Homo sapiens: one gene and its partner. The protein of the gene in region 2 purifies or fractionates together with the protein of the main gene of each other region. This does not show direct contact. Each region holds a gene or a part of one and is shown on either strand. Other genes may lie near its edges.

Region 1 (2,292 bases), on a different chromosome or scaffold from region 2:
TCAGTCTGTGACGTGGATGGACTGATATAGTTTCCCACATATGCAGTCGGTTGCATTACAAGAAGGGAACCCTAAGCCTAGGATGCTTAATCTTTTATAATGGACAGGAATATCTACCCTTTGTTCTGGAGGGAGATACTATCTCTGTCTTCCAAGGATGTTCACTATACGAATATCTTTGAAAAGATAGACTAGAACAAAGAGTAATCAGGCCTCCTGCTCACAGGATATTTAGAAATGCAAGAGATCCACGGCGAACTGTCTCCCAACATTCATATATGTTCCACCTTTTTGATTTGGAATATGTTGATTACAATGCCTTTCTCCAAGCATTCTTTTCTTTACTATTTCTTTCAGCTTTTACGTTTCACCAAAAGGCAAACAGTATTTCAAAATGCTGTAGGTACTGAAAAAGCTTTTCAGTGATTTTCATTGTGTTTTTAAAATTGTTGGCTAAAGCTATGAAAATTTTAACCCAATACATTTGTATATTCTCTACATTATTCAAAATAATTTTGGATACATATATATTTATATATTTAGATGCCAGAGCCATAGCATGAGAAGTAGAGTAGAAACTGTCACATGTATTTTATAGTAAAGGCAAGAATAAGGCAAACAATTTTTTTAAAGATAATACGAACATTCCATTAGGATTCTGTTACCTCTAACTCCATCCTATCTGCCTATTTGCCTCCACTGCAATGGCTGCAAAAATACAACTAACACCTAGCAGACCAAGGATACTGCCAAATATCCAACATTGCATAGGACAGTACCCACCCTCAACCCACACCTAAGAAAAAATTGTGCATTCCACAATCTCAGTAGGTTGAGTTGAGATCTCTGAAGATGAGAAACTCTGGGTTAAAAAGACTATAAGGGGTATATCATATCCTGGTTTCAGGAAAAGAGAAATATAGGCAGGCAAAAATAGTATAATCATTGTGATGTTAATACAAGACCAGTGACAATTCATGCATGGACATTCTCTCCTTTGGTTTACCAGCTGGCCATTTTTACTTAGCCTTGCTTCTTGCTTAAATACAGTTAAAACCTTCAACTTCTTTAGAGTCCTTTCTTTAAAAAAGAAAAGGAATGAATAAGTATAGTTTTAAACAAATGTCGCTTTGGGAAAAACTCTTGATTCATTGCTTCATTCTTACGGCTTTTTCTTTGCTTCCTTACTATAAAATAATCCAATGTTTATAAAAAACTGGACAAAATATTTTATCCATCAATTTATAAAGAAATAACAACGGTAAATAAATAATATGAAAGAAAGTATAGTTAAGTCATTCCCTTCTGGCCAAAAAAGGGAAAGAAAATGTTGATTTTTGATACTGCTTTAGGTTGGGTTTAGATGGTCATATATTTGTATTGTTATAAACTTCACTAGGTAAGGGCTTTAGATCAGCAGTTCGCAACTCTTTACAAACCTCAGTACATTTAATGGATGACTTTTAAACTTGTGATGTTCTCATTGGTTCAAAGATAAAGTCCTGCAATTAGACAAGCTCCTTAAAATTCTACCCTTCTCTTTCACTTAAAAAAGCTTATAGGAACGCATTAATAGAGAGATATATAAAAATATCCATGAATCTATTATATTTTATTACTGAAAATAAAAAAGTAAAACCATTTGTCACCTCTGGTTAGTATCTAATTACTTACAACATGCTTCACAACTGATCACGACCCCAAGGTTGTTGGTACTCAAAAAGTGTCAGATTTTGGAGCATTTCAGACTTTGGATTTTTAGATTAGGGATGCTCAACCTGTATAGTTTCCCCATATAAAGGCATCTTGTACATATACAGGTTAAATCAACATTAAACTTTTTTTAAATACAGGTTTTAACAGTTCTGTTATTTATGCCAAAGAGCCCCAGCTTTTGATGTTCTAATATCGAAAGGAGAATGTCATAACTAACCCATGGTAAGATACAAACTGTATATTTAACCTTTAAACCATATGCATAAATATTTCTCATTTTCAACAGATGTAACAGTAGACATTGTAGTCTTTTATTAGCCAAAAAATTACACACTCAGTTTTTAAAAATTCAATCATAAAAGTGAAGTAACTTTGAACAATAACTCTAAAACCCTTAGATCAAAGATAAAACATTTTAAATAAAATCAATGCCTCAAACATTTTAAATAAAATCAATGCCTTACGTCAATAAGCTCATAGTCATCTTTGGCATATAAGTGTCTCAGTAGGTACCAACGTGCAGTTGATGCAATAGATTTGGGATACCCAGGCTGATATACCACTCTTTCCAAAAGA
Region 2 (4,576 bases):
TCTTGGGAAGCTGAGGCATGAGAACTGCTTGAATCCAGGAGGTGTCTGTTGCAATGGAGCGAGACTGCACCACTGCACTCCAGCCTGGGTGACAGAGTGAGATTCTGTCTCAAAAAACAAAAACAAAAACAAAAACAAAAACTATAAATAATAATAGTAATTGGCCTGGCATGGTGGTTCATGCCTGTAATCCCAGCACTTTGGGAGACTGAGGCGGGTGGATCACTTGAGGTCAGGAGTTCGAGACCAGCCTGGCCAACATGGTGAAACCCTGTCTCTACCAAAAATACAAAAATATTAGCTGGGCATGGTGGCGAATGCCTGTAATCCCAGCTACTCAGGAGGCTGAGGCGGGACAATCACTTGAATCCAGGAGGTGGAGGTCGCAGTGAGCCGAGATCATGCTACTGCACTCCAGCCTGGGCAACATAGCAAGACTCCATCTCAAAAAAAAAAAAAATAATAATAATAATTAATAAATAAATACAAATTGAGGCTGCTGCTGCATAGGGCATACAAAGAAAAAAATTAGGAATCTTCTAATGGTATCAATTATACTTTTCCTCCCCCCCTTTTTAAAAAAATACCAATCAGAGATTGATACTGATCATTCATCTTTCCTAAATTTCTACAAGGCTGCTCCGCCTGTCAGCATACAGTCAACCACCTACTAGAATAAGAAATACAAAGTGCTTACCCACAGTTGTTGACAGCCATAAGATTGGAGACAAGCACAAAGGGATAGGTCAACATACTCGCAAAAAACTGTAAAATGGAAACAAGGCAGCTGTTATTAGATCATTCCTAGTCTTTATTCTCCTTTCCTTTACCTTAAAGGCCTAGTGCCACTGCGGTGAGACACTCTAACACTTGTCTCGCTTCATCGGTACCCTGGAAAGACAACAGTTACAGTTTTGAGCCTGGAGATGCTTCTTCCTCTTAGCACACCACTGCATCCAACATTTTAACAAAAGGCCAGAAGAATTCTCTGATCCTGAGTAGCTGGGACTATAGGCGCACGCCACCATACCCAACTACTTTTTTTTTTTTTGAGATGGAGTTTCCCTCTTGTTGCCCACGCTGGAGTGTAATGGTGTGATATTGGCTCACTGCAACCTCCGCCTCCTGGGTTCAAGCGATTCTCCTGCAACCTCCGCCTCCTGGGGTTCAAGCGATTCTCCTGCCTCAGCCTCCCAAGTAGCTGGGATTACGGGCATGCACCACCATGCCCAGCTAATTTTGTAGTTTTAGTAGAGATGAGATTTCTCCAAATTGGCCAAGGTGGTGTCGAACTCCCGACCTCAGCCTCCCAAAGTGCTGGGATTACAGGAGTGAGCCACCGCGCCTGCCCCAGCTTTTTTTTTTTTTTTTCACTTTTGTAGAAATGGGGTCTTGCTCAGTTGCCCAGGCTGGTCTTGAACTCTTGGCCTCAAGTGATCCTCCTTCCTTGGCCTCCCGAAGTGCTGGGTTTACAGGTGTGAGCCACCATGTCTGGCCTGAACAATATTATTTCGGAGGAAAGGCACGCCCCTTATGAAAGCTAAGCAGTACCAAACCATGCAGGATGTGAGGCAGGGGTTCTGCCTTACTCTCTTTATTTTCACATGTGAGTCTGTGGTTCCTTCGAAAACTGAGTTATTCTCTCTTTTTTTTTGAGATGGAGTCTCACTCTGTCGCCCAGGCCGAAGTGCAGTGGCGTGATCTCAGCTCACTGCAGCCTCCATCTCCCAGGTTCCAGTGATTCTCCTGCCTCAGCCTCCCGAGTAGCTGGGATTACAGGCATGCACCACCACGCTCGGCTAATGTTAGTATTTTTAGTAGAGACGGGGATTCATCATGTTGGCCAGGCTGGTCTCGAACTCCTGACCTCAGGTGATCCGCCCACCTCACCTTCCCAAAGTGCTAGGATTACAGGCATGAGCCATGGCGCCTGGCCGAAAACTGAGTTATTCTTACCTTTGACAAATATAACAAATTTCAGGGAGATGTCCCAGTGAGACATCTGGTTATCTTAAAGCAGTGATGACACAAGCCAGATTTAAAAGGAAAACAAAACAAAACACAACTATTCCTAGAAGGTTAAAAGGATTTTAAAAAACTCACTCCTGTGACAGCTTGAGAATAACTCTTCATTTCATTCATGGTAGAAACCTAAAATAGGAAAAGAGCCTTAAATTAATTACCTACAACACTACAACACATCAATATATTCTTTTTTCCTTTTCTTTTCTTTTCTTTTTTTCTTTCAGACAGTGCCTCACTCTGTCACCCAGGCTGAAGTGCAGTGACCTCCTGAAGCACACATCACCACGCCCAGCTAATTTCAAAATATTTTTTAAGAAATGGTGTCTTTTTTTTTTTGAGATAAGGGTCTCCCTATGTTTGCCCAGGCTGGTCTCAAACTCCTGGGCTCAAGAGATCCTCCCACCTTGACCTCTCAAAGTGCTGAGATTATAGGCATAAGCCACTATGCCCAGCTAAGAGACGGTGTCTTGCTATGTTGCCTAGGCTGGTTTCAAACTCCTGGCTTCAGGCAAACCTCCCACCTAAGCCTCCTGAGTCGCTGGAATCATAGGCTGGAGCTACTGTGCCTTGCTCTCCATGTCAATATAGTCTATCTCTAAATTATCAGTTTGACAGCTTGAAAATTAATTTTTTTTTTTTTTTTGAGACAGGATCTCATCTCTCTTGTTGCCCAGGCTGGAGGTGCAGTGAGCTGTGATCTCACAACCTTGACCTCCTGGGCTCAAGTGACCCTCCCACTTCAGCCTCCCAAAGTGTTGGGATTACAGCATGAGCCACCACACCTGTCTAAAACTAATTTTGAGGACAAAACCATAAAACACTGATTATTAGAATAATAAGGCAGTGGTCAAAATGATCAACCTGATTCAATATTAACAGACAAATTCATATTATACTAAAATGCTTTAGGGACGAATGTAAAAGGATTTCAAATACTAAAGAAAATGAGATTGATAACCTTTTCACACATCCTAGAAATACAGTCCCTGGAAAACCACATTTATAGTATATCTAAGGGACAATTCACTACCTTTGTTTTACACAGCTAGCTTTCTACCAGATGCGTTGAAGAAAATCCCTCTCTGTACTCAAGAGGTTTACAACATGGATTTAGTCATATACCCTGTGATGTGTTCAATTTATCATCATGCTATGGAGCTGCCGACATACAAGAGGCCCCACAACTGCTGAGATAAGAAAGACAACTTCTAGATAAGACTGATTCTCAAAAGGCTGAGGTTTCTAGAAAGCCCAATACAGGCACCCTCTTAAGTCCAGATTAGATGAAAAGCCCCCGATACACCATAAAGATGTCCTGCTTTCCCAGGTTCTCTCAAGTTAAGTATCAGTAAAGAAGTGATCTCTTTAAAGCCCTGAAGTAACACAGGGCTAAGTCTCTTGGGTATACTCTGTCACATCTTACGGACTTTTAACGTGTATCGTTCTACAGTAAACAGTATCGTTCTACAGTGAACAGTATGCTCATTTCATTAGCATTTGAAAATTTGACTGATAATTTTTAGCTATATAATTGTTCAGTCTGGCATGTAGCAAACTGTCATCTTGTTTATTTATTTATTATTTATTTTTTGAAATGGAGTCTCCTTCTGTCACCCAGGCTGGAATGCAGTGGCGCGATCTTGGCTCACTGCAACCTCCGCCTCCTGGGTTCAAGCAATTCCCCTGCCTCAGCCTCCCAAGTAGCTGGGACTATAGGCACGCACCACCACGCCCAGCTAATTTTTTCTGTATTTTTAGTAGAGACGAGGTTTCACCATGTTGGCCAGGCTGGTCTCGAACTCTTGATCTCAGGTGATCCGCCCACATTGGCCTCCCAAAGTGCTGGGATTACAGGTGTGAGCCACCTCGCCCGGCCCATCTTACTTTAAAAGCTAATCTAGCTGCCAGATTAAAGCCAAGGTGAGCACATCTCACGAAGGTCACAACCTACCCCACTGTCCAGTGCATAGGTATTGACGAGGTAGGCCAGTGAGTTACACAGCCACAAAGAAAGGATGTCACCTAGAAGGCGAGGAACAAGACCCCTACATGAAGAAACAATAAAAATAAGAACCAAAAAATGTGATCAGTAACATGACAGGCTCTTCAGTACAAATGTTTGTCAAATAATTAGAGGTCACAAAACATTCTAGGGAAGTAAAAAAGGAATCAAACACCAGAATCCAGCCCGCATACCTAGTTCATTCTCGTTAACACAGCTGTACTTGAAGCTGATCTCCAGTGACTTTTGTTCCTATGTTTAAAATGCAGGTCGGCTATACCCTCAGTGGCTCACCTTACTATTCATAACTGTAAGCAGGGAGGCAAAAGATTTGCGAGGTGCTTTGCAGAAGAGACTTAAATATTGTTTTGCTTTGACTAGCTTAAAAAAATGATTTTGCTAAGCTATCTGATATTCATATTTGGCAGAGCAAAAGACGAGAAAAATTACAAAGCAAGAATGGTCCCAAGTACAGATACAGATGAGAGGCATCAAAAACCACATTTCTAGGGTCTGGGTGACCTAGGTGAGGCAGCATGGAATAGTGGG

What was found. The genes of interacting proteins can lie anywhere in the genome.
Region 1: the proteins of MTCH2 (region 2) and SKIC3 purify together in Homo sapiens (affinity purification with mass spectrometry; one large-scale study listed by BioGRID and IntAct). This does not show direct contact.

What each region holds. Positions count from the first base shown.
Region 1 is NC_000005.10:95,465,686-95,467,977, forward strand, and holds part of SKIC3 (superkiller complex protein 3), read right to left. Parts: coding exon 2,181-2,292; intron 1-2,180. UniProt on the Homo sapiens protein: Component of the SKI complex, a multiprotein complex that assists the RNA-degrading exosome during the mRNA decay and quality-control pathways.
Region 2 is NC_000011.10:47,624,977-47,629,552, forward strand, and holds part of MTCH2 (mitochondrial carrier homolog 2), read right to left. Parts: intron 4,071-4,576; coding exon 3,977-4,070; intron 2,152-3,976; coding exon 2,104-2,151; intron 766-2,103; coding exon 698-765; intron 1-697. UniProt on the Homo sapiens protein: Protein insertase that mediates insertion of transmembrane proteins into the mitochondrial outer membrane. Catalyzes insertion of proteins with alpha-helical transmembrane regions, such as signal-anchored, tail-anchored and multi-pass membrane proteins.